Linked DNA regions of Homo sapiens. The protein of the gene in region 6 purifies or fractionates together with the protein of the main gene of each other region. This does not show direct contact. Each region holds a gene or a part of one and is shown on either strand. Other genes may lie near its edges. The genes, in order: IQGAP3, TMF1, SLC35E1, TRABD, NGDN, PKN3 and GLUD1.

What was found.
Region 1: the proteins of PKN3 (region 6) and IQGAP3 purify together in Homo sapiens (affinity purification with mass spectrometry; one large-scale study listed by BioGRID and IntAct). This does not show direct contact.
Region 2: the proteins of PKN3 (region 6) and TMF1 purify together in Homo sapiens (affinity purification with mass spectrometry; one large-scale study listed by BioGRID and IntAct). This does not show direct contact.
Region 3: the proteins of PKN3 (region 6) and SLC35E1 purify together in Homo sapiens (affinity purification with mass spectrometry; one large-scale study listed by BioGRID and IntAct). This does not show direct contact.
Region 4: the proteins of PKN3 (region 6) and TRABD purify together in Homo sapiens (affinity purification with mass spectrometry; one large-scale study listed by BioGRID and IntAct). This does not show direct contact.
Region 5: the proteins of PKN3 (region 6) and NGDN purify together in Homo sapiens (affinity purification with mass spectrometry; one large-scale study listed by BioGRID and IntAct). This does not show direct contact.
Region 7: the proteins of PKN3 (region 6) and GLUD1 purify together in Homo sapiens (affinity purification with mass spectrometry; one large-scale study listed by BioGRID and IntAct). This does not show direct contact.

What each region holds. Positions count from the first base shown.
Region 1 is NC_000001.11:156,562,566-156,566,065, reverse strand, and holds part of IQGAP3 (ras GTPase-activating-like protein IQGAP3), read left to right. Parts: coding exon 1-39; intron 40-633; exon of another isoform or gene 634-730; intron 731-1,374; coding exon 1,375-1,451; intron 1,452-2,241; coding exon 2,242-2,309; intron 2,310-2,399; coding exon 2,400-2,513; intron 2,514-2,753; coding exon 2,754-2,932; intron 2,933-3,400; coding exon 3,401-3,479; intron 3,480-3,500.
Region 2 is NC_000003.12:69,024,239-69,028,652, forward strand, and holds part of TMF1 (TATA element modulatory factor), read right to left. Parts: intron 4,058-4,414; coding exon 3,988-4,057; intron 3,755-3,987; coding exon 3,662-3,754; intron 1,860-3,661; coding exon 1,758-1,859; intron 1,475-1,757; coding exon 1,322-1,474; intron 1-1,321. UniProt on the Homo sapiens protein: Potential coactivator of the androgen receptor. Mediates STAT3 degradation. May play critical roles in two RAB6-dependent retrograde transport processes: one from endosomes to the Golgi and the other from the Golgi to the ER.
Region 3 is NC_000019.10:16,551,812-16,555,764, reverse strand, and holds part of SLC35E1 (solute carrier family 35 member E1), read left to right. Parts: intron 1-367; coding exon 368-613; intron 614-1,855; coding exon 1,856-2,086; 3' UTR 2,087-3,953. UniProt on the Homo sapiens protein: Putative transporter.
Region 4 is NC_000022.11:50,194,999-50,200,095, reverse strand, and holds the end of TRABD (traB domain-containing protein), read right to left. Parts: coding exon 5,056-5,097; intron 2,856-5,055; coding exon 2,745-2,855; intron 2,660-2,744; coding exon of another isoform or gene 2,648-2,659; coding exon 2,508-2,647; intron 2,274-2,507; coding exon 2,101-2,273; intron 2,022-2,100; coding exon 1,910-2,021; intron 1,752-1,909; coding exon 1,577-1,751; 3' UTR 981-1,576; coding exon of another isoform or gene 968-980; 3' UTR 501-967; downstream 1-500.
Region 5 is NC_000014.9:23,472,344-23,476,242, forward strand, and holds part of NGDN (neuroguidin), read left to right. Parts: intron 1-2,827; coding exon 2,828-2,965; intron 2,966-3,214; coding exon 3,215-3,299; intron 3,300-3,382; coding exon 3,383-3,435; intron 3,436-3,685; coding exon 3,686-3,809; intron 3,810-3,895; coding exon 3,896-3,899. UniProt on the Homo sapiens protein: Part of the small subunit (SSU) processome, first precursor of the small eukaryotic ribosomal subunit.
Region 6 is NC_000009.12:128,705,503-128,709,916, forward strand, and holds part of PKN3 (serine/threonine-protein kinase N3), read left to right. Parts: coding exon 1-41; intron 42-231; coding exon 232-377; intron 378-1,210; coding exon 1,211-1,322; intron 1,323-1,393; coding exon 1,394-1,521; intron 1,522-1,719; coding exon 1,720-1,903; intron 1,904-4,414.
Region 7 is NC_000010.11:87,084,429-87,088,842, reverse strand, and holds part of GLUD1 (glutamate dehydrogenase 1, mitochondrial isoform a precursor), read left to right. Parts: intron 1-4,414. UniProt on the Homo sapiens protein: Mitochondrial glutamate dehydrogenase that catalyzes the conversion of L-glutamate into alpha-ketoglutarate. Plays a key role in glutamine anaplerosis by producing alpha-ketoglutarate, an important intermediate in the tricarboxylic acid cycle.

The DNA.
Region 1 (3,500 bases), on a different chromosome or scaffold from region 6:
TTTTGGCTATCTGCAATAGCCCACATCGGTCTGCCTTCGGTAATACTGGGCCTGAAGATTGGTATTCATCTTTACTCCTTACCAGCCACCTCCCACAATCCCATGCTTTATCTCCCTGGACCCTTTAGCCCTATTTCCATGTGTCTTCTAAACTAACTTAATCTAAGAGAACAGTTCCTTGCAGCTGTGTGTCTTTGAACCAGGTTATTTTTTTCTCTGCCTCCTCTTCCCTGTGGATGAAAGGAGGTGAAGTTTCCCTGGCCTGAGTGGCACGGTTCCCATTATGCAGGGGGTGGGAGGCTGCTATGTCATGCTCGTATTGGCCAGCCTTGTCTCCACCAAATTTCACAGTGTGAAGCAAGGGTATACACATCCCTAGGTGGCAGACTTTGAGTTAGAAGCCTAGGTCCAAAACCCCAACTGGACACATGATTTCACTCTTTGAACCTCAATTTGTTACTCATCTGTAAAATGGGGATAGTGAGCCCTGCCCTGTCTACCTTACAGTGTTGTCAGGAAGATCACATGGTCTGTGTGAACTCCCTTTGTGAACTGTGAAGAGCTATACAAATGAAGGCATGATAGGATTCTACAATGTATGGTTTCTTTCTGCTTTGTTTTTCTTCCCTGTAGAAAGGCACTATAAGACAGGAAACAGCAGTAAAGACACTTCGATGGGAGGCAGAAGCAATAGAGGTCATGTGTCTTCAGTGGGACTGGAACACTCTAGGTCTCTAAATTTGGTCTTTTATTGTGAATCTAAATATAACCAAGATATATTGAGGTTAGGCCTCATTACAGTTGTCAGGTGGCATTGAGAAGCCATACCTGGTGCCACTCGGTTCTTAGAAGGGCTCTCATTGATCAGAAGCCGCTGGCTTGGAGACAGGGATAACAGCCTGACACTTTTGTGGTCCTTGGCAATATATGCTTCATTGGGCCCTGCATGGGAGTAGGCCAGCTCTCCAGCATACCACATCTCTGGCAAGGGTCTAAGGTGAGGCATGCAGGCTCACTATAGACATCTGGAAGACAACTGGGGGCCTGGTTTTTTGTTGTTGTTGCTGTTATTGTTTTTGGAGGATATGGCTTATATCCTGTAGCCTTGATGGCCTTATCTGGTGTTTGGTTAATCCAGGGCACCCTAGGACTATGTGTCTGTGGCTGAGCCTTGGCTTAGTATGCATCCTCAGTGAATTTCTTTTATACTAGGCTGACTAGAAATGGTTGGGGGAGACTGACCTAGACACCCCAGGTAACAAGGGAACACACACCTCAGGTTGGAGAGGAAGACCCATTCCTCGGCACCCCCTCTCCGCATTTGGTGGTGCTTAAAGGTTCCCAATGGCAGTAACTGGCTGGTTTCTCCTCTAGACCTTCTTCCCAGAGACCACGGACATCTATGACAAAAAGAACATGCCCCGGGTAGTCTACTGCATCCATGCTCTCAGGTGAGAGACCTCAAATTTTATCATCCAGGTTCCTCTAGGTGGATGCGACCAACAATCAACAACAACAAACTCAGCAAGAAAGAAGGATGAAGGGTAGACCACAGGGAGCACTGCTCAGGAGAGTGAGGTTTCAGATTTACAGAGTTGTGTTTAGATTTTTGTGCATGTCTGTGGGCACATTTATGTATGGCCTGTGTGGGTGAAGGGGAAGGGCAGGCAGGGTACCAGAGATAGGAAAGTAGCAGGGTAGGGCCTTCAGTTTGTAACTGGGTATAAAGGAATCAGAACAGGACCTATTGAGAGCAACACAGGCAAGACACTTAGTATGGATGGTGTAGGCTCTTTGGTCCTACTTACAGCCAGCCATCAGCAACCAGTTGGCTAAATCACAGCAAGTGACCGACCGGTTCCTTGTGTTTACCATGCCATCTCTTTCTGACCACTTCCCATGTCCCTTTGTGCCCCTGTGCCTTAGCTCAGCAGGTATCTGCTTGCTGCGCCCTTCCTGTCCTCTCTCTCCATTGAGTGACCTGCTACTGCAATGTGGCCTTCTCTGTGAAGCCTTCCTAATCCCCTCAGACCCCCAACACCATCTTATTTACCTTCTGCAGCACTTTCCTTGGGCTGATTTATGGTCATATTTCTTTATGTGGGTTGGGGATGACTTGAGGGCAGGTGCTGAGTGGTCTTCATCTCTAGGTCCCCATAGTATCCCCTTCAAACCCATCGTGGGCAGAGTGTCAAAATGAATAGGCCCCAGTGCCTTCCAATGCCTTCCGTTTTTTCCTAGTCTCTTCCTCTTCCGGCTGGGATTGGCCCCTCAGATACATGATCTATACGGGAAAGTGAAATTCACAGGTAAGCCCAGCTCCTTCCCTGACCACCACAGCCTGGGCAGGGTCTTGGGGGTTCTGGGCCTGATGAAGGGCACCTGTGGCATCATTGCAGCTGAGGAACTCAGCAACATGGCGTCCGAACTGGCCAAATATGGCCTCCAGCTGCCTGCCTTCAGCAAGATCGGGGGCATCTTGGCCAATGAGCTCTCGGTGGATGAGGCTGCAGGTAAGGACTAGGCTCTGCCCTGCCAGGAGTAGGCTCAATGCGTATGGGAGGGCTCCAAGCCTCACAGCCATTGGATGGGTTCTGGCCAGCTCTCATCCACAGATAGGGCCATCAGGCTACCTGGTTTGTCTGGCCCTTGAGGGTGGGAAAAAGGATGACATTAGAGTGGGCTGCTACTGGTTGCGCTCCAATCTGGGATTCACTCTGGCCTCCTGACCTTGTTTCCATGCCCTCTCCCAGTCCATGCAGCTGTTCTTGCCATCAATGAAGCAGTGGAGCGAGGGGTGGTGGAGGACACCCTGGCTGCCTTGCAGAATCCCAGTGCTCTTCTGGAGAATCTCCGAGAGCCTCTGGCAGCCGTCTACCAAGAGATGCTGGCCCAGGCCAAGATGGAGAAGGCAGCCAATGCCAGGAACCATGTAAGGAGTAGTCTTGGGTTGCAGGGACCGAAAAGTTGAGTGGCTGGAAAGTCTCAAGTGAAACCGGGACTCCTATCTGTCATGTCTCTAGTATCCAAAATTGCTTCTTAGAGAAACCATAATTTATCAGTGATTTTAGAGAAATAGGAAAGGAACTTGGAAGAATGATGAGAATTCCGAAGAGAAGACTGGAGAAGAGGTTCTTGGGGGATGATCTTCAGGGAAGCCTGAGAGGGGTGCTGGAATGTAGAACAGAATGAGATTGGACTGGAGGTTCCAAAGGTTGGTTTGGCTTAATTATGTCAGTGCCAAGTGTTTTAGACCCCACAATTCCTGAATTCTGAGCAGACTGAACTTTGGCCTTGGGAAGGTCCCCAGAAGAAGAAATAAGTGTAGCCAGGCAGGGAAGAGCAGGACAAGGAGATTAAATTGGGTTTCCCAGGTTCCCTTTCAATGGAGTTTTTGCAGGATGACAGAGAAAGCCAGGACATCTATGACCACTACCTAACTCAGGCTGAAATCCAGGGCAATATCAACCATGTCAACGGTAAGAGACCTCGAGCAGGAG
Region 2 (4,414 bases), on a different chromosome or scaffold from region 6:
GTAATATAAAAATATTTAATGTGTGTGTGGTTTTTTTTTTTTTTTTGAAATAGACATGTCAACATATAACCTTGAGCTAGCTCTTTCTTAAGTAAAGGAAACAGTGGCAGAAAAACGGTCCCAACTTTCCTGAGAGGTATACCGTTTATAAGGTTTACTGTGCAACAGAGATAAATCCAATTATTTGTTTGAAAACATTCAACCATATATTTTTCTAATCTAAGGAAATGACATATATTTCAGTTATTCTAAATTACTACAAGAACCCAGAGAAATAAAAATATACTTTAACGTAGCCCCACCTGTGTAGGTTGTATCGACAGAGGCTTTCATCACTACCAAAGAAATTAATTAGGTCCCTGTATAGCATACCAGCTATACAAACATCTGGGATTCAGATTAGTCTGATCTACTTTTTGCCAATTCAAGTTCTTTAATATTTTCATATAACTAAAAGTATATAATGGGAGTTGAATTTTTACCTACTTCTGAGTGTATTGTGTTTAACACTGAAAAGAGGTATCCTGATTCAAAATGCTTGAGACCAGGAATGTTTCAAATTTCTTTTTTTTTTTTTTTTTTTTTCAGATTATGGAATAATTGCATTATGTACTTACTGGTTGAGCATCCCAAATCTGGAAATCCAAAATGCTCAATTGAGCTTTTCCTTTGAGCAGCATGTCAGCACTCAAAGTTTTGGATTTGGGGGCATTTCAGATTTCAGAGCTGGGATGCTCAAACCTGTAAAACATTTCAATATTTCTGACTGCATAAAGTTTTTTAAAAGCCAAAAAGGTAAGATGGAAGGATGCTCCATCAACAACTCATGTTGTTTCCTCCCATGTACAGGGTGTTACAGTTCAAACATCTCATCCCCTTTACCCCTCCTTCCCGGGGTAGCTGGAACAACTTATCTAAGAGGTAAATCTGAATAGAACAGGCATTCACAGCTCAGTGACTTCCCTTTATTCTGTTGGGAAAGAGCTGCTTGAAAGGAGGAGGGATTCTCTGCTCCTAGATGCTTATGTCTTATGTAGGCAGGTTGTAAAACATGGGAGGCCTGCTCCAGCCCAGCATTTCCTGTGACAGATCAGCCGAATATGCCTAATTCTGGCAATTAGCAGGTTCAGTTGGCTGTTATCCTTAGCTAATTTCTCTTTTTAGCCTTTATCATTGATATATGTGATACATTTTGGGCTTCACATGCCACTATGTCATCTTGTTTCTCAATTTGCTCAGAATTCAGATGGAAATGAAGGGTGCTATTTATTAGGCCTCAAAACTTCATTTACTTCTATAGCAAATTTAATTTTTCCAATACCTGTAAATGAGTGATTTCCCCTTCCCTTAGCTTTAGCTGAGACTGTAGGTTTTCAATTATGCTTGATCCTGCTCCCATCCTTACAGCATCATAAAGATTGCTTCCATTTGCTGATATAGGCATTGGTCCAAATGAGTGATCATGAGACTCATCCTATGTTAATTAAGAAAGTTCACACAGTTACTCAGTTATCATAGCTTGTCTTCCATTACCAGGTTCGAACAAAAATGGTTCTGTCAATTTTTGCTTTAAATGTCTTCTCAAAGGCAGAAAATCATTCACGTGTTTCCTCTCACTAAAATTAGCACTCCTCCACAAGTATTCAGATGAATTACCCATAGAATGGCAAGGTCATGATGACAGACAATATTGCCATTTGCATATTTCCTTTATTATTATTCTAAGAACTAAGCACATATAAAAAATAAAACATCACCTGAGACAGAAAAGATGTCTGTAGTCCTGCCATATCAACACCACTTATTGAACTTGAGCGTGACATGGTGGGAGTGCTAGAAACAGAAAATGGCTTGCGTTCCTTAGGGAGTAAAAAAAATTCTGTTCATATTAAAGAGCAAAGAGATAAGCAGAGAAAGCAAGAACATTTCCTAGGGTTAATGAGAACAAAGATTCAGTCTTTTAAAAAAGCCACACTACAAAGGAATTCAATACAATCAAAAGAAGAAAAAAAACTTTTTTAAGATTCATTCTAATTTCCCCATAAAATGGCTTCTTAAGTCAAAAATACAATATTTGGCCAGGCATGGTGGCTTATGCCTGTAATCCCAGCACTTTGGGAGGCCAAGGAGGGTGGATCACCTGAGGTTGGGAGATCAAGACCAACTTGACTAACATGGAAAAACCTCGTCTCTACTAAAAATACAAAATTAGCTGGGCGTGGTGGCGCATGCCTGTAATCCCAGCTACTCGGGAGGCTGAGGCAGAATCGCTTGAACCTGGGAGGTGAGGTTGCGGTGAGCCGAGATAGCGGTGGAGGTGGCGGTGAGCTGAGATAGCACCACTACACTCCAGCCTGGGCAATAAGAGTAAAACTCAGTCTCCAAAACAAACAAACAAAAAAAAAGTACAATATTTACTAATTAAAACTGTAGCTAGACTTGGTTAGATCATCACAGAACCCATTTATTACAACAATGTAATTTGTTGGGTTTTTATAATAGAATAAGAATGTTTCTGTTAAGCTTCATATTATACAATATACTATCAATTAAACCTATTTCTGTAACATAAAATTACTAATGAGTGTTACAAATCATAAAATTTCTGGCTTATCCATTTTATTTTTAATGTATTCTTAAAATTCCAAATAAATTCAATAGGTAATTTAAATTTACCTATCGGTAGTTTAAATATATTATGCTAACTCCAAGTACACGGTAATTCTTTCAATACAGAAAACTCATTTTTATTTATTTATTTATTTTTATTTTTTTGAGAAAGAGTCTCGATCTGTTGCCCAGGCTGGAATGCAGTGATGCGATCTCGGCTCACTGCAGCCTCCGCCTCCCGGGTTCAAGCAATTCTCCCACCTCTGCCTCCCGAGTAGCTGGGATTACAGGCACATGCCACCATGCCCGGCTAATTTTTGTATTTTTAGTAGAGATGGGGTTTTGCCATGTTGGCCAGGCTGGTCTTGAACTCTTAGCCTCAAGTGATCCACCTACCTCAGCCTCTCAAAGTGCTGGGATTACAGATGTGAGTCCCCATGCTCAGCCTCAGAAAACTCATTTCAGAAAAATTACCCTCATTAACCAGAAAGAAAACAAGCCAGACTTACTCCTTAAGTGCCTATAGACCAAATGATGTGCACTGGTTTCAGTGACAGACAATTAAATTCATTTTTAAAAAGGGCAAGAGGTTTTATATTTCAAGTCCTAGAAATCATAGATCTCTTTGGATAAACTCAAAATTACTTTGGGTCCACTCTGAGCAGGACACTGATTATAATACTAGAATTCATCACTATGTTGATTTTAGACATTAAAAAAATGATACTTATAAAGCAGGGATGTCCAATCTTTTGGTTCCCTGGGCCTCATTTGAAGAACAAGAATTGTCTTGGGCCACACATAAAATATACTAACAATAGCTGATGAACTAAAAAAAAAAAAAAAAATCATGAAAAAAATCTCATGATGATTTAAGAAAGTTTGCAAATTTGTGTTGGGCTTCATTCAAAATCATCCTGGGCCACATGCCAACCAGGGCCACAGGTTGGACAAGCTTGTTATAAAGCATAGCTAAAATTAAAAAGCAATGATTAATCACAGCATCTACTAAATGGTTACACCACAAACAAACAAAAACAAAATTCAATACCTTTTCTTTTATTGTTTCTTGAGTAAAAATGGCTTTCTTCCTTTCTTGTTCAACTTTCATTCTTTCCATTTCTAACTGACTATTCAACAATGTCTAATAGAGAGAAATAAAGTTAGACAATTTCTGTGATAGTAATTCATGCCATGATAAGTCAATCTCAAAGTTAGAAGCATAAAGTATAAACTCATATTTGTTTTCCTACTAAAGACCAAGTTCCAAAAGCAGTGGCATCACCCATTTCATCTTGTTATCTCATTAATTTGCTGCCATCCCCAACCATTCTCTAATGTATGCCCTAAGAGCTGAGTGGTCACGAAGAGAAATACCTTTTCTTTCCTCGTCTCTTCAAGTGTTCTTACATATTCATCTTTTAGGTTTTCCAATTCAACCTGGTACCTATTAAACAAGGCAGAATTTAAAAAAACAGAAAATGAAAAAGATGCTAGTATAGACTATTAAAAACTCAGTACTTTATTAACTCCAGCTACATATTGAGAAATCATTTTTATTACCAGCTTGACATCAGTGATTTTCCAACAGTGTGTTCCAGATCCCATCTGAGTTTCACTCAGAAACCAAACCAAAAGTGAAAAAGCTCCACTTCTGTGCATTTTATTTATTGGTGCTCTGGGTTAAGATTTCATTTAAAAAGAGACTTTATAAAAATAATTTTGAGTACCATCATCCTATAATATGCTCAGATTCCACAAAGCTTATTAGGGAGTTCTATGAAAATGTTTCTAAAAGTTCAGA
Region 3 (3,953 bases), on a different chromosome or scaffold from region 6:
CCTGTAGAATGCATTGCGTCCAACAAGCAGATCCCTGCTTTGCCAAACCCAGGGTTCCTGGCTGTTCACTGCCAGGGAAGGCTTTGGCTTACGTCTTGCTTGGTGCCCTTTGGGGACCTGGCTTCACCTGTTTCCTTGGCAGGAGACGGCGGGTGATTCCCATGCTGTGTGGTGTCATGAGGTTCTGAGGTCATGGACCTAAAGCACCTAGTGTCTCTTGGTGACACATCTGGACTGGCTGCCTGTGGACCATGAGGCTCCAGATGAGCCCCTCCACATCCCTTCCCCTAACCCTGCCAGGTGGATACAGGGAGGCAGGGTCACCGCTGCCCACTGAAGTGCTGTCTTTACCTTCCGGTCTCTGCAGACCTACGTCTACCAGTGGCCCTGGACGCTCCTGCTCCTGGCTGTCAGCGGCTTCTGTAACTTTGCCCAGAATGTTATCGCCTTCAGCATCCTCAACCTCGTTAGCCCCCTGAGCTACTCGGTCGCCAATGCCACCAAAAGAATCATGGTCATCACGGTGTCCCTGATCATGCTGCGCAACCCAGTCACCAGCACCAACGTCCTGGGCATGATGACCGCCATCCTGGGGGTCTTCCTCTATAACAAGGTGAGAGTCTGAGAGGCTGGGCAGGGAAGGAAGCCGGCCCCCCAACACCCAGGAAGTCAGAAAAGGAAGGGCCTCCCGGGCGCTCAAGGCTGGGGTTGTATGTCAGAGCTTTGCCACTGACTGGTTTATGATCTTGGCGTAGCCCCATCCCACTCTGGCTTCCTTTTTCCTGCATAGGCAACCTCAGGTCCTCAAATCATTCCGGCTGTGTCTCAGCTGGGGTTTTCCCTCCCTCCTCTCAAAGGCTCTGTTTAGTGCGGTGTAAGGACATGGGATGGCCAACAGGGAGGGCTTGCCTTCTTTTCCTTTTCTTTTTTTTTTTTTTTTTTTTCGAGATGGAGTCTGGCTCTGTCACCCAGGCTGGATTGCAGTGGCGCTCCATCCCAGCTTACTGCAACCTCCGCCTCCCGGGGTCAAGCGATTCTCCTGCCTCAGCCTCCCGAGTAGCTGGGACTACAGGCGCCTACCACACCTGGCTAATTTTTGTATTTTTAGTAGAGATGGGGTTTCACCATCTTGGCCAGGCCAGCCTCCAACTCCTGACCTCAGTTGATCCACCTGCCTTGGCCTCCCAAAGTGTAGGGATTACAGGCATGAGCCACCACACCTGGCCTCTTCATTTGTTTCTTAACACATGTAGATATGGGGTCTCTCTATTTTGTCCAGTCTGGTCTCCAACTCCTAGCCTCAAGTGATCCTCCCGCCTAGGCCTCCCAAAGCACTTGAACTACAGGCATAAGCCACTGCGCCTGGCCAAGGACTTGTCTTCTGAGTCTGTCCATGCACTGTGGTCTGGTCCATTCAAGTCTGCTTTCCTTGCTCAAGCCCTATGACTTATGCCGGCCCCGGAGGTTAACTGACTTTTTTTTTTTTTTTTTTTTTTTCTGAGACAGCGTCTTGCTCTGTCTCCCAGGCTGGAGTGCAGTGGTATGGTCCCAGCTCACTGCAACCTCCGCCTCCTGGGTTCAAGTGATTCTTGTGCCTCAGAACGCCTGAGTAGCTGGAACTACAGCATGCGCCACCACACCCGGTTAATTTTTTGTATTTTTAGTAGAGACGGGGTTTTGCCATGTTGCCCAGGCTGGTCTCAAACTCCTGAGCTCAGGTGATCCTCCCGCCTCGACCTCCCAAAGTGCTGGGATTACAGGTGTGAGCCACCGCAGCCAGCCAGTTGATTGACTTTGAATTACGAGCTCTTATGCCCCGGGCATGTCCTGTCTCATTGCTCTCTTTCTGGCACAGACCAAGTACGATGCAAACCAGCAAGCCAGGAAGCACCTCCTCCCCGTCACCACAGCAGACCTGAGCAGCAAGGAGCGTCACCGGAGCCCACTGGAGAAGCCCCACAACGGCCTCCTCTTCCCCCAGCACGGGGACTATCAGTACGGCCGCAACAACATCTTAACAGACCACTTCCAATACAGCCGGCAGAGCTACCCAAACTCGTACAGTTTGAACCGCTATGATGTGTAGAGTCCAAAGGACAGGACCAGACTGTTGGTGACTCCTTCCCCGGCCCCCACAGCAGTATCAGAAACTTCTGACAATCAGTGAATGTACAACCCAGCCGAGGGGACGGTGCATAACTCTCCATCAGAAGCCCTGGGGTTCCTGGCCCCCCGTGAGCCGCAGGAGGATGCGTTGCCTGCAGTGCAGACGGCCGTGAGCTCTGGGCAAACCTAAACAGAGACCAGTGTCTCATGCTCTTTCTTCCTGGAGTCTGTCATCTGAGGGCCGTGTCCCTGCGGAGATCTTGGCCACGTTGTACCTTTCCATGTGGAATTATTCCCCAAGCAGTGTAGCTCAGAGCACTTGTGTCTGCATTCCAGATAACATTCAGGACCTGTGTGAAAAGCTGGGGTCACTGTGGCTGTAGACCATGAACTGGCAGTGGGGGTGTCCAGGGCGGTGCTTGAGAACGTCAGACTGGCTAGTTTAATTCCCTGGCGCAGATACGCATAGGACCAACAGGGTCACCAAGCAGACAGGGAGCCCGCGAGAATCATTCAAAACATCCCCAGCCACAGAGATGGATCCAGTTTCCTGGTCATCCCCTTAGCAGTTCACAAGTTCCTGGCAAATGTTCCAAAGCAAAAAGCGATTGCAATTAGCATCCAGTTCCTGCAGCCTGGTGCTCTGCCCTGCACGTCAGGGTTGGCATCCACCCAGATCCAGATGGAAGGGAAACTTCTCTCTTCTCCTTTGCCTCCTCTTCCCTCACCAGAGCAGGGCGCTTCTCTTGGGGTGGTGAGAAGGATCTTCGAGAAATCGTGTTCAGTATTTCAAGCTCTATTTCTGTGGCACATGTCTTTTGAGAGGCATCTTCACCTCTTCTGTGATGACTTGGTATGTTGTTTGGTAGAGAGATCTTGATTTTCGGAGGATCTTGCATTTTTCTAGGGAATATTTTGTAGTTGTGTGTGTGTGTTTTTGCCTTGGTCCCCATTATGGGATGCATTAGGACTGGCCTATGCATCGAAAATCTTTTTGTTTGTAAACGTTTAAAAACAAAGTTCCCCGGCCAGGCACAGTGGCTCACACCTGTAATCCCAGCACTTTGGGAGGCCAAGATGGGCGGATCACGAGGTCAGGAGTTCGAGACCAGCCTGGCCAACATAGTGAAACCCCATCTCTACTAAAAATACAGAAATTAGCCGGGCATGGTGTCGCGTGCCTGTAGTCCCAGCTCCTCAGGCTGCTGAGGCAGGCGAATTGCTTGAACCTGGGAGGCAGAAGTTGTGGTGAGCCGAGATTGTGCACTCCAGCCTGGGTAACAGAGCGAGACTCCATCTCAAAAAAAAAAACAAAACAAAACCAAGTTCCCACTGGTGATGCCTGTCTGACACGTTTTGGTATTTAGTAGGAAATGAAGTGTTTCGAAGCTTCGAGAGAAGCTTCAAAATTGTCACAATTGCTGAAAACAGAATGAATCGTGAACATTATCTCAATATTTTGTATAATAGACAAGACCACAGTGTTTTGGTTCCCTGACCTGTTTTTGTGTTTATGTTAGGATCTGAATCATGTTCTGGGTAAGGGGACGAGGAGCGAACACTGCACTAAGATTTGGTTTGCCAAATCAGATTCTTTGGTCAAGAGTCAGTTTGGGGCCAGGCGTGGTGGCTCATGCCTGTAATCTCAGCACTTTGGGAGGCTGAGGTGGGTGGATCACTGGAGTTTGAGACCACCCTGGCCAACATGGTGAAACCCCATCTCTACTAAAACAAAAATTAGCCAGGCATGGTGGCACCTGCCTGTAATCCCAGCTACTTGGGAGGCTGAGGCAGGAGAATCACTTGAGCCCAGGAGGTGGAGGTTTCAGCGAGCTGAGATCACACCA
Region 4 (5,097 bases), on a different chromosome or scaffold from region 6:
CCTCCGCGTGCGTTGGGCAGGTAACTGGATGAGGGATAATGTGGTGAGGTCCCCGTGCCCAACCCTCCTCTGCAGCCCACAGCAACCGTTCCCTCTTCAGCAGCCCCCTCCCCCCGGCCGCTCTGGGCGCCCGTTCCCAGCATCCTCCTTGGCAGGTGTTACCCCTCCCCATTCCCCAGGCCCTGGGCCCTCCTGATCTGTCTCCTCGACCCCCTGGGGCCCCAGTCTGGCTCAGTCTGGTCCACACTCTGGAATCTGGTGGGACTGGGTATGGAGGGTCTTGAGTGTCAGCAGGCCACCTGCGTCCCACCTGGTGGGTGAGAAGGGTCCCACAGGTCAGCATGGAGGGACCCGACTCTGTCTCTTCTGCTGGAAACCAGGCAGGTTCCTTCCCCCAGGGCCCCGGCAGGGCCACGAGTACCCGCTGCACTGGAGCACGGGGGAAGAGGCAGGGATCCTTCATTACCTGAACCCCATGTTCACACGTCACAAAACAGGAGTTTCCAAAATTAGAATTTATTTCAGTTTCTAAGGAATGAATCCCCGAGTGTGGCAGGAAGGACACAGCCGGCTCCTGACGCACACCTGATTTGATTCAACACCGAGTCGGCACAGACACAACCAGAGATGGCCTGGGTCCAGGCTGGGGCTGCACGGGCTGTGTCCTGGACAGCCAGGAGGGAGGCCCCGCACACAGACGGCCGCCGGGCAGGGGGCCTGAGCGGGACAGGCCTGGCCACAGCCCATGTCCTTGGCCTTCCACATAGGTGCACACATTGTCTGCCCAGAGAGGGCCAAGATGCCCCAGGCACCCCTTCGCTCCGGGGGCTCAGGACACAGGCTCCCAGCTGAGGCCACGCCTGGACCCAGAGCTGATGTTTGGCTGCACGCGAGCCCACTCGGGACAGACCCAAGAACACGAATTCTCTCCCTTTGGATTTAAGGCTGGTGTTTTTTGACATTTACTTCAGTTTTTCTCTCTGAAATTAAAATTACCTGAGTAAAAGATTTTAAGACATTAAAAAAGCCAAAAACACAGAATCCCTGCAGGCAGACGGTGCCAGGGAGGTGGCGGCCAGGGCCAGGATGCCAGGGGCACGGTGGGGTCGGCTGGAGCTCCAGGGCTGGGCCTTTCCCAGTCTCGCCTGCCCTGGAGCCCCCAGGAGCCGCCCCTGGGCCGACGCTCCTGTGGCCGGAGCACAGGAAGGCACAGTGAGGTAGGGACAGTGGCCATTGTCCCCCGCCTGCCACCAGGGCTGAGAGGGCAGCGCACGCCTCGGCCCCTCCTATAAGCCCCTGCCCCCTCGGAGCTGGGTGTCTTGTCCAGAAGCTGGGGAACGGCCCCTGCAGTGTGGGAGGGGAGGGGCTGCCGGGAGGCCTGAGCTCAGACAGTTAAATAATCCTTTATTTGGGTGGGCTGGGGGAGGGGTGACTGGCCCAGGAGGGCAGGCGAGGCCGGGCCCAGACCCCCATGGGGGGTGGCAGGGGCCTCGGGCGGGCTAGGATGCACCTGGCACCCAGAAGTGCCGCGGGGGCACTGGCTCCTCAGGGGCCCGAGCGGGCGGGGAGCAGTCTCCTACTTGTGCCGGGCCTCGGTCACCCTCTGCAGGCAGTACTGCGCGGCGGGCAGCGACAGGACCAGGCTCGCGGTGCGGCGGCCCATCCAGTACAGGCTGTAGCCCAGCAGGCCGAAGAAGGCGGCCTTCACGGCCAACCGAGACACTCTGCCGGAGACGGACGGCGGGGGCACGCTGTGGGAGGGAGGGGGCGCTGGGCCTGGCTGGGGGTGGGCTCCCCATACCCCAGCCCCCATGCCTGGGTCACTGCCGCATGTGGTTGGCCTCCAGGGCGCTCAGCCTCCACCTGGGGGCTTGTGGGGTGGGGCTTGCAGGGAGGGGCGGGCACTCACGTCATGATCTCCTGGATGTTGAGGTCGGTGCTCCAGTTCTTCTCGATGCCAGGCACGTGGCCCATGCCCACGACGCCCACGACCACGGAGGGGACGCACTTCCTGGGCTCGGCTGTGGGGAAGGACAAGGGGTCAGTACCTGCTCGGGCCTCAGCCTCACAGGGGGTCCCACGCCTGCGGGCGGCCGTCACCGTCAGAGGCCCGAGGCAGCTCGAGGCGCCGCGCGGCCTGGCGCAGCATGTAGGTTAGGTAGACGTCGCGCTCCGAGACGATGGTGCGGTGCAGGTCTGGGAACTCGCCAATCATCTCGGCCATCATCTGCTCCAGTAGGTCCTTCTGCTTGCAGCGTTCCACGTCATCCTTGCTGTGGAGAGGGATGGCTGCAGCCCCGCAGGGATGGGCAACGGGCTGGGGGGGTGGGGCTGGCACTGTGGACACCGGGCAGGGACCACAGCACGTTTGTTTGGGATTTGTGGCGGAAGGAAAGGGCAGGGAAGGCCTTGAGTGAGGATTGGCTGCGCTTGGACCTGCACAGGAGGGCCTGGAGCCTCCCACAGACCACCCTGCAGGCCGGCCAGGGTCCCGGGGGCAGCCCTACCTGATGGGGTCTGACAGGAAGCACAGGCCCCAAGCCAGCCTGACCTTCTGCCAGAAGGAGAGCGCTGCGATGGCCCTCTTGAAGGTGACGGGGATGGGTCGGTCACCCAGGTGGAACTTGCAGAAAGGCACCTTGCTGGCCTGGAGCAGAGGCTGGGTGTTGGGGAGCAGTGGGAACCCCGGACCACCCCTGTGAGCCACATCCCTGTGGCCACCCCCTACCTCACCCTGTGCCCACCTCCTTGAAGGCCTCCCTGAACTCGCCACCTGGGGCCATGCCCAGCTGCTCGGTGATGTGTGCAGACACCTTCAGCAGCAGCATCTGCATCAGCCCCGACATGAGCCCGTTCTGCAGAGAGAGGGAGCAGGCATCAGCTGGAGGGGCGGGTGCGGGGGTGCGCTGGGGGAATGGCAGAACTGGGATGGCAGGCAGCACCAGCGCAGAGCCCTGCCCCAGCCCAGTGCTGTGTCCTTGGCCCCCTCCCCGACAGGTGCAGGACCACCCTAGCGTGCAGAGGGTCAGACCAGAGCAGGGAGTTCTGTCCCAACAGGCACTTCTCAAAGGTAGCTCCCTTCAGAAAAGACCTTCACGGGCCGGGTGCAGTGGCGCACGCCTGTCATCCCAGCACTTTGGGAGGCTGAGGCAGGCGGATCACGAGGTCAGGAGTTCTCTCTCAGACCAGCCTGGCCAACATGGCGAAACCCCATCTCTACTAAAAATATAAAAATTAGCCGGGTGTGCTGGCGGGTGCCTGTAATCCCAGCTACTCGGGAGGCTGAGGCAGGAGAATCACTTGAACCCCGGAGGCAGAGGTTGCAGTGAGCCGAGATCACCAGCCTGGGTGACAGAGTGAGACTGCTCTGTCTCAAAAAAAAAAAAAGAAGAAGAAAAGGCCTTTATGAGGCAGTCTCGTTCTGCGAAGGGGCCGCCTTGAGCTGGCACAGACGCTGGGTGCTGGGCAGGCAGGCTGGAGAAAGGGCCTCACCACTCACACCTGCCTGCTGAGGTCAGCACAGCACTGCTGGTGCGGACACCAGGCCACCCCCATCTTCAGCAGCTACAGCCCGAGGCCTATTGCCCCTGTCTCACCGGCCGGCTGGCACCACGGGGGTGTCCACGTGTGAAGGAGATGATGCCCACAGAAGGGCAGCAAAGCCCCGGGGGCCACACAGCGCCGGGCAATCGCTCACACCTGCACGCGCCCAGGGACGGTCTGGGCCTGAGCCATGAGCCCTGGGAATGTCCCGCCTGATGGAGTGCCCGTGTTTCCCCGGGGCCCAGGCCACCCTGGGGAGCCCAGGCTAACTTAGGATGAGACATTCACGAGGCCTTGGTCCACTGGGACCCACTCCACCTCTGGAGGGGCTGGGGTCTGAGCTCAGACGTGCCTGTGACCAACCCCAGTAGAAACCTAGACACCAGGGCACAGCGAGTGTCCCCCGGGAGGGGACAGGTGAAGCGGACACCTGGTGTCTCCCAGACCCTGCCCCACGCCCCCTTCCCTCTGTGACACCGCAGCAGTGAGCAGCACGGCACTGCCGAATTCTATGCCCCTTCGAGATCACTGGGCCCCAGGCTCTGGTGGGGAGGCTGCCCAGTGCTGGGCCCTGGCTGGACCGGGGACTGCCCTTTAGAAGACGGCCCACAGAGGTCTTCTTTGGTGACTTGCCTCATCTGGAGAAATTAAAAAATGAAAGGCAGGCGCCAAACGTTTAGGGACATTTCTATAAGATCTCATTATAATTGTTTCCTTTGAACAGGGGGAAGGCAAACTGACCAGGGCTGGGGTCAGGCGTGCTGGGCCCCCTTTGAAAACACAAAGCCTGGCCGGGCGCGGTGGCTCATGCCTGTATTCCCAGCACTTTGGGAGGCTGAGGTGGGTGGATTGCCTGAGCTCAGGAGTTTGAGATGAACCTGGGCAACATGGTGAAACCCCGTCTCTACTAAAAATACAAAAAATTAGCCAGGTGTGGTGGCAGGCACCTGTAATCCCAGCTACTCAGGAGGCTGAGGCGGGAGCATCACTAGAACCCAGGAGGCGAAGGTTGCAGTGAGCCAAGATCGCACCACTGCACTCCAGCCTGGGCAACAGAGCGAGACTCTGTCTCAAAAAAAAAAAACAAAAACCGAAAACACAAAGAGCAATGAGAAAGTCCTGCCTCTCCGGTCACTGCAAGGCTGGAGAAGTGGGGACAGGAGGAGCCCTGAGCCCCACCCACTTTGGGCCTGGGTGTGGTACCGGGGGGGCCAACCTTGCACTGAGACCTGACCCATCCCCAGCAACTGCTCAGCAACCCAGTCCTCGGGTGACCAGCCCCTGCCTCAGCTTGGAGAGCCACCCATTTCCTCCTCCCTTGCCTGAAACCGGGTAATGGAGCCTCTTTCATTTCTCCTGGCCCAGGGGAGGTCCCTAACCCGGCAATCCCCAGGGCAGGCCAGGCACAGCCACACTGACTGGGGGCATGGGCTGTGAGAGGAACCTGGGCAACAGGCAAACAGGTGGCTTTGACCCCGACCCTGACCCTGACCCTTGCCCGCGGCTGCGCACCTGCCTCACGGCCTGCTGCAGCTTCTCCAGGCTGAGCTCCTG
Region 5 (3,899 bases), on a different chromosome or scaffold from region 6:
AAATTAGCCGGGCATGGTGGCGTGTGCCTGTCTGTAATCCCGGTTACTCGGGAGGCTGAGGCAGGAGAATTGTTTGAACTCAGGAGGCAGAGGTTGCAGTGAGCCGTGATCATGCCACTGTGCTGCAGCCTGGGCAGCAGAGCAAGACTCCATCTGAAAAAAACAAAACAACAACAATTAAAATATTGTAGTTTTCAAATGAAGGTCTGGTAGAACCTTCTCAGGGATTACTGGTTGGGGGCAATGTGGAAGAACAACTCTGGATCTCTCATCCCTACTTAACTGGAAAACTCTGGTATTATCTGTTTTTATATATTGAGCTTTTGTCCTAAGATATTTAGGCCAAATATTCTATGGGTAAATACAAGTATGAAAATCATTGTAATAAGAGTCACTGAAGGAGTTTTAAGCACAGGAGTTACAGCAGATTTGTGCTTACAGAAAGATAACTAAAAACAGCATTCAAAATATATTCCCTTCTTGTCTTTATCATTCACTTATGTTCTTATTGTCCATTTTTATTTAAAAAAAATTTAAATCTTTGTTTTTCTCTCATATGCTTGTAGCTCAGTTTGAATTTGACAATGCCCAAGCACGTCGGAAGAGCCTGCTTCTCAAATTCTTACCTGTTTTTGTCCTGGGTACCATGCTTTTTTGTTTTGTTTTGTTTCGTTGAGATGGAGTCTCCCTCTGTCGCCCCGGCTGGAGTGCAGTGGCACGATCCTGGCTCACTGCGGCCTCTGCCTCCTGGGTTCAAGTGATTCTCCTGCCTCAGCCTTCCGAGTAGCTGGGATTACAGGCGCCCGCCACCACTCCTGGCTAATTTTGTATTTTTAGTAAAGACGAGGTTTTACCATGTTAGCCAGGCTGGTCTCGAACTCCTGACCTCAGGTGATCCACCCACCTCGGCATCCCAAAGTGCTGGGATTACAGGTGTGAGCCACCACACCAGGCCTTGGGTACCATGCCTTGAACCATTTCAGTGCCTTTTGGAGATGGATGAGTTGCCAGCATCCTTCTTAGATCCCTATATATTTGTTTATTTATTGAACAAATACATATTAACTTATCTTTTTGACCAAAGACTTTTACTAGGTGCTTTATAGGTTACAAAGTTCTTTCACATTATCTTATTTGGGCCTCATAATTATTCTTTGTGGCAGGGAGGAAATGTACATATTTTACTGATAAGACTGAGGTTGGCCTGGTGCAGTGGGTCACGGCTGTAATCCCAGTGCTTTGGGAGGCTGAGGCAGGTGGATCACGAGGTCAGGAGTTCGAGACCAGCCTGGCCAACATGGCGAAACCCCGTCTCTTAAATCTTAAACAAAGATTTAAATTTTTTTTAAATAAAAATGGACAGTAAGAACATAAGTGAATGATAAAGACAAGAAGGGAATATATTTTGAATGCTGTTTTTAGTTATCTTTCTGTAAGCACAAATCTGCTATAACTCCTGTGCTTAAAACTCCTTCAGTGACTCTTATTAACAATGATTTTCATACTTGTATTTACCCATAGAATATTTGGCTTAAATACAAAAAATTAGCCGGGCGTGGTGGGAGGCACCTGTAGTCCCAGCTACTTGGGATGCTGAGGCAGAAGAATCACTTGAACCCAGGAGGTGGAGGTTGCAGTGAGCCGAGACAGTGCCACTGCACTCCAGCCTGGGCGACAGAGTGAGACTCCATCTCAAAAAAAAAAAAAAAAAAAAGACTGAGGTCACAAGGTTAAGTGACTTACTCAATATTTGACTACCAAACACCTAATTCAGAACTTAAACTCAGTTTGTGGACTCTAAATCCTTTGCTCTCCTTCTATACCACAGTAGTGTTGATCTCAAGAGCTTAGCATGTTGGCTTAAAGACATCCAGGGATGAGGTGTTGGAGTCAGATTGAGTTTGAATCTTAGCTCTACTTGTATTACTGTGTTATCTTGGCCAAGTATTTAACCTCTCTGAAATAGGTTTTCTCAGGGCTGTGAAGTTTGGAAGATACATAAAAGCCCAAAGAAAAAAATGAAAAATCAGTATAATCACCACTCTGAGATAACCACTGTGGTAATATTTTTGAGATTTTTAAAATTATAAGAATAATATATGCAACACTTTTTCACACTCTAAAGTACACCATTTCTTCCTTTTCCTCATCTCACCCTAGGGGTAGCAGTTACTTGTGTGTTGTCTTGTAGACATTTTTCTATGTGTATAAAATGTATTCATCATATCCCCCCCTACACACACACACTTTCACAATTGAAGTCATATTACACTTTCTACAACTTGTGGTGACATGGATTTAATTCGATGTCATTATATATAAATCATTGTTTTTACCTGTATCATATAATTCCATTGTATGGGGGGAAATTGGTAATTACTTTGATTAAATTAATTTAAAACTTGGCAGTCTGTGGAGACATTTTTGATTGTTAGAGCTTGGAGGGGCCATCCGTGGGAAGAGGCCAAGGATGCTGCTGGAAACCTACAATGCCCAGGACAGCCCTCAACAAAAAATGTTCTGGCTTCAAATGTCAATAGCTCTGAGATTGAGAAACCCTGTTATAGTCTTTTTTGGGGGGGTAGTTTATTGATTTTCCTCTTCTCATTGTCTTCTATTAATTTTCTGAGCGTTGTTTCTCTTGTATTAGCATAACTTTCTCATTGGCCTTCTTAGGCATAGCTACTTCTTGAGACTATTCCAGATACCTAATATGAACTGATTGGGAAAATCTTGAACTTGGAAAAACATCCCGTTTACCCTAGGCTTTCATCTGGTTCTTTGGCTAAAACCAAATCTGTTTTTCTTTCTGTTTTGTTCAACTCAGGGTCTCAGCTTCTTGGAAGTGAAAGACCAGCTGCTGCTCATGTACCTTATGGATTTGACCCACCTCATTCTGGACAAAGCCTCAGGAGGATCTCTTCAGGGACATGATGCAGTTTTGAGACTGGTGGAGATTCGCACGGTATGAAGCATTTGGCTTCTTGGAGTTTTAGGTTTCTAAATTTTGAGCTCCAAGGGTATCACACAGTAGCTCTCATTTAAGTGAGTCTTCTCATGTTTAAGGAAACCAAATGAGAAAAGGTATTTTTCTATTCATTTGCTCTACTTTGTACATATTTTAGGTGCCTTATGTGGCACCTTAATATAGGGACTCTGGTGTGTGCTTCATTTTGGGAAGGAAATATAATCCTGATTAACTACCATGTTGTAGGTTTTGGAAAAGCTTCGTCCCTTGGACCAAAAGCTGAAGTATCAAATTGACAAGCTGATCAAGACTGCAGTGACAGGCAGCCTTAGTAAGTGAGGAGACCATCATGAAGTTGTGGGGACCATCAGAAAGTTCCAAATTTTGTAAAATTCATTGGGTTATTTATTTCAGGTGAGAATGACCCACTTCGTTTTAAGCCTCATCCCAGCAATATGATGAGCAAGGTAAGGGGTTGTAGTATTCTCCTGATTTTTTTCTGAGGCAGCTATACCTAGATGAGCCTCTTGGTGATCCTGGATACCCTGGGATTCTCTTAGGACTTGATTTTCCAACTTGTGTGTTAGAATGCTGAGTTTGAGATTCCCTTTTTTCCCTTTTTATATTCCCACCACCCCAGGGTACTCCAGCTTTGGGTTTTCTTCTCACTTATCTCATGAATGCTTCCTAAATTTGCAGACATTGTTTCTTTTGTAGTTGAGCTCTGAGGATGAGGAGGAAGATGAAGCAGAAGATGACCAGTCTGAGGCTTCAGGGAAGAAATCTGTGAAGGGAGTGTCTAAGAAATATGTTCCTCCACGCTTGGTTCCAGTACATTATGGTATAAACTTTGGCTGCTGCCTCCTCAGCATGAACTGTTTCTCTTTTCTCTGTTCTTGGATAACCCTGCTTATTTTCATCATGTAGATGA
Region 6 (4,414 bases):
CGCCCGAATCCTGCTGCCCGGCCCTGGGCCTGGCCCAGCTGGTGAGTGAGGAGCTGAGACCCCCTCAGGACAGAAGGCTCTAGGCCCATCTGGCCCCTGGCCTTGGCCCTGGCCACTGTGGCGAGACCACCTCATTTCCTGCCTATAGATCAGTAGGGGAAGGAGGAAAGGCCACAGTGGGGGTCTCGGCTCTGGGTGAGGGACTCCTGTGCTCGATACCCCCGTGCACAGAGCCTGTGGCCTCAGGACCCCGGCCGTGGGCAGAGCAGCTCAGGGCTCGGCACCTAGAGGCTCTCCGGAGGCAGCTGCATGTGGAGCTGAAGGTGAAGCAGGGGGCTGAGAACATGACCCACACGTGCGCCAGTGGCACCCCCAAGGTAAGGCCCCACAGTCTGATGGCAGGAGCACCCTGGCCCCTGGTCTGACAGGGAAATGCACCTCAGCCATTGGGCTCATAAGGAGACACCATTCCAGCCTGCAGCCTGATGGGGAAAATACAGCCCCAAACCCCAGCTGGGTGAGGAAGGCATGGCTGTAGTCTCTAGTGTGACAGAGAAGGCCTTGCCCTGGTCTAATGGGATCCTAGCCCAGCCCCAGTCCCAACTCCCAGCATGATGTCCAGAACTGGGCCTCAGTCCTTGTCTGACAAGAAGACTTGGCTGTGGCCCTGATATGATGACGGAGGCAGGACCTTAGCCTTGATCTAATGGGGGAGGCTTAGCTTAGCCCCTGCCCTGATCTGATGGGGGAGGCTTATCCCCAGCCCTGATCTGATGGGAGAGGCTTAGCTTAGCCCCTGCCCTCATCTAATGGGGGAGGCTTAGCTTAGCCCCTGCCCTGATCTGATGGGGGAAGCATCAACCCTGCTCTGATGGGGGAGGCATGACCACAGCCCTGATCTGATGGGGGAGAGTTAGCCCCAGCCCTGATCTGATGGGGGAGAGTTAGCCCCAGCCCTGATCTGATGGGAGAGGCATGACCCCAGCCGTGATATGAAAGAGGAAATTTGACCCCAGCCCTTGTTGGTCAGATGGAAAAGGCTCCCCTGACCCACCAACTAGTCCAACAAGGGAGGCTTGACTTTAGTGTTTGGCCTAGAGGTTTCACTTTAACCCTGTTTTGATGGGGGAGACCCGGCTCCAGTTCCTGGTCTGATGGGGGAAGCTGTGGCCCAGGCCTGGTCTGATGGGCCTGTGCTATGGCTCCATAGGAGAGGAAGCTCCTGGCAGCTGCCCAGCAGATGCTGCGGGACAGCCAGCTGAAGGTGGCCCTGCTGCGGATGAAGATCAGCAGCCTGGAGGCCAGTGGGTCCCCGGAGCCAGGTGAGGCCTTGAGACACAGGGAGGGCGGAGCAGGGAAGAGCAGGGCCTGAGAGCCGCCGTCCTTCCCACAGGGCCTGAGCTGCTGGCGGAGGAGCTACAGCATCGACTGCACGTTGAGGCAGCTGTGGCTGAGGGCGCCAAGAACGTGGTGAAACTGCTTAGTAGCCGGAGAACACAGGACCGCAAGGCACTGGCTGAGGTCAGGCCCCAGCCCTGGCCCTCTCCTAAGGCTGGCTTGTTCCCATACCACCCTCAGCAGGGGTGTGAAGGGAGGGTGGCCGTGTAAAAGCAGGACTTCTCTGTTGAGACTTCATGCGGAAGGTGGCTCCGGGTGACCTGGGCTGCTGCCCCCTGCCATATACCCCACGAACCTGGCTCTACGTTGTCCCCTCTGCAGGCCCAGGCCCAGCTACAGGAGTCCTCTCAGAAACTGGACCTCCTGCGCCTGGCCTTGGAGCAGCTGCTGGAGCAACTGCCTCCTGCCCACCCTTTGCGCAGCAGAGTGACCCGAGAGTTGCGGGCTGCGGTGCCTGGATACCCCCAGCCTTCAGGGACACCTGTGAAGCCCACCGCCCTAACAGGTAGTCAGAAGTTCCTCCCCCTTCAAAGCTCTCCTTCTTTTTGGGGGGAGGCCGGAAGCACAAACAACTCTGATGAAGAGTTCAAGAGTTCCAGTCCTGCCCCAGCACCCACTAGCAGCGTGACCTTGGCAAACTGACATTCCTTCTTCAAACCTCAGTTTATCCATCTGTAAAATGTGGATGATATAGCACCTACCTCATAGGGTTGCTGTGTTGCACGTGATGTGCTAAGCACAGTGCCTAGCACAGTCAGCACTCGGACAGCGTAGCTTGTATTTACATAAATAACCAGAATAATGCTTAAAGCACTGGTGTTAGGAAGCTCGCAGCCCTGGAAAGCTTGATACCCAGCACTGGGCAGCTTGGACTGTTAGAAAGTTTTCTAGGCTGGGCGTGGTGGCTCACGCTGGTAATTCCAGCACTTTGGGAGGCTGAGGTGGGTGGATCATGAGGTCAGGAGTTCCAAGACCAGCCTGGCCAAGATGGTGAAACCCTGTCTCTACTACAAATACAAAAATTAGCCGGGCGTGGTGGCGGGTGCCTGTAATCCTGGTTGCTCAGGAAGCTGAGGCAGAGAATTGATTGAACCCCGGAGGCGGAGGTTGCAGTGAGCCGAGATCACGCCACTGCACTCCACCCTGGGCGACGGGGCAAGACGCCGTCGCAAAAAAAAAAAAAAAAAAGGTTTTCTTGGGCCAGGCATGGTGGCTCATGCCTGTAATCCCAGCACTTTGGAAGACTGAGGTGGGCGGATCACCTGAGGTCAGGAGTTCAAGACCAGCCTGGCCAACATGGTGAAATCCTGTCTCTACTAAAAATACAAAAAAGTAGCTGGATGTGGTGGCACATGCCTGTAGTCCCAGCCACTCGGGAGGCTAAGGCAGGAGAATTGCTTGAACCCAGGAGGTGAGGTTGCAGTGAGCTGAGATTGCGCCGCTGCACTTCAGCCTAGGTAACAGGGCAAGACTCCATCTCAAAAAATAATAATAATAATTTCCTTGGAAAAAAAATAATAAAATTAAACTAAAATTGCTGGGTGCAGTGGCTCACACCTATAATCCTGGCACTTTGAGAGGCTGAGGTGGGAAGATTGCTTGAGCTCAGGAGTTTTTTTGAGACCCAGTCTCAAAAAAAAAAGAAAAAAAGAAAGTTTTCTTGGCTGGGCACAGTGGCTCAAGCCTGTAATTCCAGCACTTTGGGAGGCTGAGGTGGACGAATCATTTGAGCCCAGGATTTCTAGACGAGCCTGGGCAACATAGTGAAACCTCATCTTTAGAAACAAAAAAAATTAGCCGGGCGTGGTGGCGCATGCCTGTAATCCCATCTACTGGGGAGGCTGAGGCAAGAGAATTGCTTGAACCTGGGAGGCAGAGGTTGCAGTAAGCCAAGATTGCACTGTTGCACTCCAGCGTGGGTGACACAGCAAAACTCTTTCAAGAAAAAAAAAAAAAGAAAGAGTTTTCTGGTCTGGCTCAGTGGCTCATGTTTATAATCCTAGCAGTTTAGGAGGGTGAGGCATGTGGATCACTTGAGTCCAGGAGTTTGAAACCAGCCTGGGCAACATGACAAAGCTCCATCTCTACAAAAAATACAAAAATCGCCGGGCGCGGTGGCTCACGCCTGTAATCCCAGCACTTTGGGAGGCCGAGGCGGGCGGATCACGAGGTCAGGAGATCGAGACCATCCTGGCTAACACGGTGAAACCCTGTCTCCACTAAAAATACAAAAAATTAACCGGGCGTGGTGGCGGGCGCCTGTAGTCCCAGCTACTCGGGAGGCTGAGGCAGGAGAATGGCGGGAACCCCGGGGGGCGGAGCCTACAGTGAGCCGAGATCGCACCACTGCACTCCAGCCTGGGCCACAGCGAGACTCTGTCTCAAAAAAAAATAAAAAAATAAAAAAATTAGCCAGGTATGATGGTACGTACCTGTAGTCCCAGCTACTTGGGAGGCTGAGGTGGGAGGATTGCTTGAGCCCAGGGAGGTTGAGGGTACAATGAGCCATGATCGCGCCACTGCACTCCAGCCTGGGCAACAGAGAGCCCGTCTCAAAAAAAAAAAATTAGGCTGGGCACGGCAGCTCATGCCTGTAATCTCAGCACTTTGGGAGGCCGAGGTGGGTGGATCACCTGAGGTCGGGAGTTCGAGAGCAGCCTGACAAAAATGGAGAAACCCCGTCTCTACTAAAAAATACAAAATTAGCCGGGCCTGGTGGTGCATGCCTATAATCCCAGCTACTCAGGAGGCTAAAGCAGGAGAATTGCTTGAACCCGGGAGGTGGAGGTTGCAGTGAGCCAAGATGGCACCATTGGAATCCAGCCTGGGCAACAAGAGCAAAACTCTGTCTCAAAAAAAAAAAAAATTTGCAAAAATTAGCTGGGTGTGGTGGCGGGCGCCTGTAGTCCCAGCTACTCGGGAGGCTGAGGTGGGAGAATGGCATGAACCTGGGAGGCGGAGCTTGCAGTGAGCTGAGATTGTGCCACTGCACTCCAGCCTGGGTGACAGAGTGAGA
Region 7 (4,414 bases), on a different chromosome or scaffold from region 6:
TGAATAATTTTGAAATTACTTTCTTAGTTTTCTTCATTAAAAACTAAGAAAATGCTTTGTTTATTATGAATTGCTATTTCTCTTGATTATTATTCTTGGAGAAAGTCTATCAGACGTAATTCTTCTGATTTGCTTCTAGGCTAGAGGAAAATGTGAAAGATGACAAATGAAAATTTCAAAGGTTGTCAGTAGTATGACTTCTTTTATCGTTTGTCATTATCACAAATATATCAACATAGGACTTTTAAAAGATATTTTGTACATATTGGGCCTTAGTAGGATTTTGCATGAATTTTTTTTTTCTTTTATGCCAAGAGAGAAAGAGCAAAGAAATAACCAAGGGTGATGTACTCGTATTGAAGGTTTACCAAATAAGGACTGCTTTTATTATGAACTATAGTCTATATTCTAAGTAAATCAATTTTTCTATTATGTGTTTTTTGTTCCTGCAGGCAAGATCTCTGAACTTTATGCAGAGGGTTCTTTTAAAAAAACAAAGTTGAATTTTTTTATTTCTTGGAATATTTTTTTTCATTGATTTCTCCCAAGTAGAGCAGATTCAAATCTCCTTTGTACCCTATGTCTTTTTTGTTTTGCTATAAGCTCAGTATTCCATTTCTACATTTTCCTTTCCTAGAACCAGTCAATAAATGACAAAAAAAAAAACAAAACAAAGTAAATCATGTGTTGTTGCAGTAGGAGTTCAAGGAAACCAAGGACAATCTTGTTTGTTTATTTGTTTTTTTGTTTGTTTTTTTTTTGAAACAGAGTTTTGCTCTTGTTGCCCAGGCTGGCATACAGTGGCGCGATCTTGGCTCACTACAACCTCTGCTTACCAGGTTCAAGCAATTTTCCTGCCTCAGCCTACCAAGTAGCTGGGATTACAGGCATGCACCACCTCACCTAGCTGATTTTTGTATATTTAGTAGAGACAGGGTTTTGCCATGTTGGTCAGGCTGGTCTCGAACTCCCGACCTCATGTGATCAGCCCACCTCGGCCTCCTAAAGTGCTGGGATTACAGGCGTGAGCCACCGTGCCTGGCAGACAGACAGTCTTGATGTGGGAACAGAGAAGGCTGGATAGGAGTTGGATAAGGCCATTTCAGATAAAGAGGGGGTGGCTTCACCCAAGGCAGGAAGTGGAACTGTGTGTAAGGGGGTCATGAGGACAAACTACATTTGTAAATAATGAGAAATAAGGGCTTGTGACAGTAAATATATTTGGTCTCTTTGCCTGGTTCCCAACACAGAGCTCCTGAATGTCGCAAATTCCTGAGTGATAGGAGCATCTTTTGTTCTAACTAGGACACTCTTAATGGGCTTCTGGGTAGCTTCAAGGTGGGGACTAGTCACCAAAAAGACCAAGCCATAATTAGAAATTTGGAACTTTCAGTCCCACCCTTTGACCTCTGGAGATTGGAAAGGGGCTGAAGATTGAGTTTAATCAGCAATCAGTCATGCCCTCATAATGGAACCTCTATACAAACCCTAACTGATGGCTGGAGTATGGGGAGAGTTCAGAGAGCTTCCAGGTTGGTGAATGCATCCATGTATGGGTAGGGTGGTACCCTCCAAATTCCAGGGGAACAGAAGCTCCTGCAGTGGGGACATTCCAGACATGGCCCTGTGTACCTCTTCATGTTGCTGTTGATTTGTATCCTTTACATAAGTAACGTTTCCCTGAGTCCTGTGAGCCTTTATAACATTATTGAACCTGAGGAGGGGGCCATGGGAACCCCCTGGTTGGTAGCCAAGTTGGACAGAAGTGTGGGTGCCCTGGGCACCCAAGACTTGGAACTGGCATCTGAAGTAGGGAACAGTCTTGTGCGACTGAGCCCTTGAGCTGTGGGGTCTGTGCTAACCCTGGTAGTCAGTGTCATAACTGAATTGCAGGACACCCAGTTTGTATCTGCAGAGAACTGGAGAACTGCTTAGTGTGGAAAACCCACACATTTGGTGTCAGAAATGTGTGAGAAAAAACAATTTTTTCCTTTTTTTTTTTTTTTTTTTCTTTGAGACGGAGTCTCGCTGTCTCCCAGGCTGGAGTGCAGTGGCGCGATCTTGGCTTACTGCAAGCTCCGCCTCCTGGGTTGATGCCATTCTCCTGCCTCAGCCTCCTGAGTAGCTGGGACTACAGGCGCCCACCGCCACGCTGGCTAATTTTTTTTTTTTTTTGTATTTTTAGTGGAGACGGGGTTTCACCATGTTAGCCAGGATGGTCTTGATCTCCTGACCTCATGATCCGCCCGCCTCGGCCTCCCAAAGTGCTGGGATTACAGGCGTGAGCCACCGCGCCAGGCCAATTTTTTCCTTTTATGTTTGTTGGATGAATAATGATGAATCTAGCAGGGCACAGAAAGCTAGGCAGCAGTGGAACTGAGAATGAAGTTATAGTTAATAGCAGAGAATGAAAAAGAAAAGACAGATAAAACATTTTGAAGAAAGGACAGTAATGTATTCCCAACAGGTAGGATTTACAGGATGAAGGAGAGAAGAGGCAAAGATAACCACAAAATTTCTAGCCTGAGAGACTGGTAGAAAAAAATGGTGGTATCAGGGACAGATGGGGTTATTAAGGAAAAGGATTGGATTTTTAAAATAAAGAAGATCTGGTGTAAAATTATCCTTAGGGAAATTGGAAATCCAGGCACGTACTTCTCTCCATCATGCCCTTGAATAGTGCAGTCCCTCTGCCTGTCCATGCCTCACTTCCCCCTCCCTAGGATTCCTCTGCCTCTCTTAAGACCCATCTCAAATTATCACGTAGACTTGTAAATAATTTATATGAAACTGGATAGCTGAGGTTTCAAGCCTTTATCCCTTTGAAACTTTTTAATAACAAGTTATTGTTACCTTTTACTAAATCCAACTTTATATTCACCATTTTAACTAGCATCATTTCCGATTCCAAGACCTGTTTGGTGTGAAAGTGCAGCTAAGTTACTGTTAATCAAGATCAGAATAAAAGAATCTACCAAGAAAAATTAACAAAATCCCCCTTTTAATGTATAATCTTCCATCTGTCAGGCTGTAAGTTAAATAACACAAAACAAAGCTGTATGTTTTATGGATATGTACATATATAATTGCAGGGAACATGATTTGGAAGGATATACACTTACATTGCTAAGAATAGTCACCCCTAAGGAGAAGACTGGGGTCATAAGTGGAAGTCAAGGGAGTCTTCAGCTTTCTTTTTGTATTTAAATTTTGATAGAAATACATACATATGTGTTATAATTTTAAATTTTTAATGAAAAAAGTATTCTTCCGTTTTTTCTTTGATGTGTCAATAGGTTATATTTTTCTAATATCAGCTAAACATTTGCTTCCCAGAAAGCTTAGTTACCTCTTCAAAATTTATTCAGGTTAAAATAAAAGATTTAGACTGGATTAAAAATCTAAGATGGTATTTGCCTACTTTATACAAAACAGTACATTGATGCTGCTAAAGCAATTAAAGTATAATTTTTCTGGTTTTTTTTTTTTTTTTTGGAGACGGAGTCTCACTCTCTGTCGCCCAGGCTGAAGTGCAATGGTGCAATCTCCACTCATTGCAACCTCGGTCTCCCAGGTTTAAGCGATTCTCCTGCCTCAGCCTCCCCAGTAGCTGGGATTACAGGTGTGCACCACCACGCCCAGCTAATTTTGTTGTGTGTTTAGTAGAGACAGGGTTTCATCATGTTGGCCAGGCTGGTCTCGAACTCCTACCTCAAATGATCTGCCCACCTCAGCCTCCCAAAGTGCTGGGATTACACGCGTGAGCCACCACGCCCAGCCTAAAGTGTGTACTTTTTCTTAGCTCCTATATGCAGTGCTCCTTCCCATGCTGAATGTCTGAATTTTTATCTGAGACGTAGTATTTCAGGTGGTCATTACTTGTGGGTGGTCATTGAGAGTTCCTCCCTGCTTCTAACCTTCCTCTCTTCATTTTAAATTAAGTTACGCTACATTATTGTGGGTTAGAAGGTACATTAATATTAAGTGAAAAAATATAATCTGATGAGTAAGTGGCAAGAGTGTTAACTTATAAATATTAAGAGTTGTTCTGAGGCATTTTTGCTTTTCTGGTGGTTCTGTGCTTCTGGTAGAACTCTTGGTTACTGAATAAATAGTTCCTGAAAAGTGAGAGAGTGCAGCTGGAAATTAGATTTCTGATGAATAAATCAAACCCTATTAAGAGAACCAGGTTCAAGTAATTTTAAAACCACTTGAATTTTCATAAATGTTTTGTTAATGACTAATTATAAAAAACAGTGACTAGCTGGAGGCTTTTGTGTTTGCTTTTGAGTCAGCTAGGAAAAGGAAAAAAAATTCAAGCTTAGTCAATTGTGGTTTTCACTGAATCTTTTTTAAAGTAATGAGCTGGTTTGTTTTCTTCATCACTATAGCAACTTAAGCTAGTTTCTGCTTT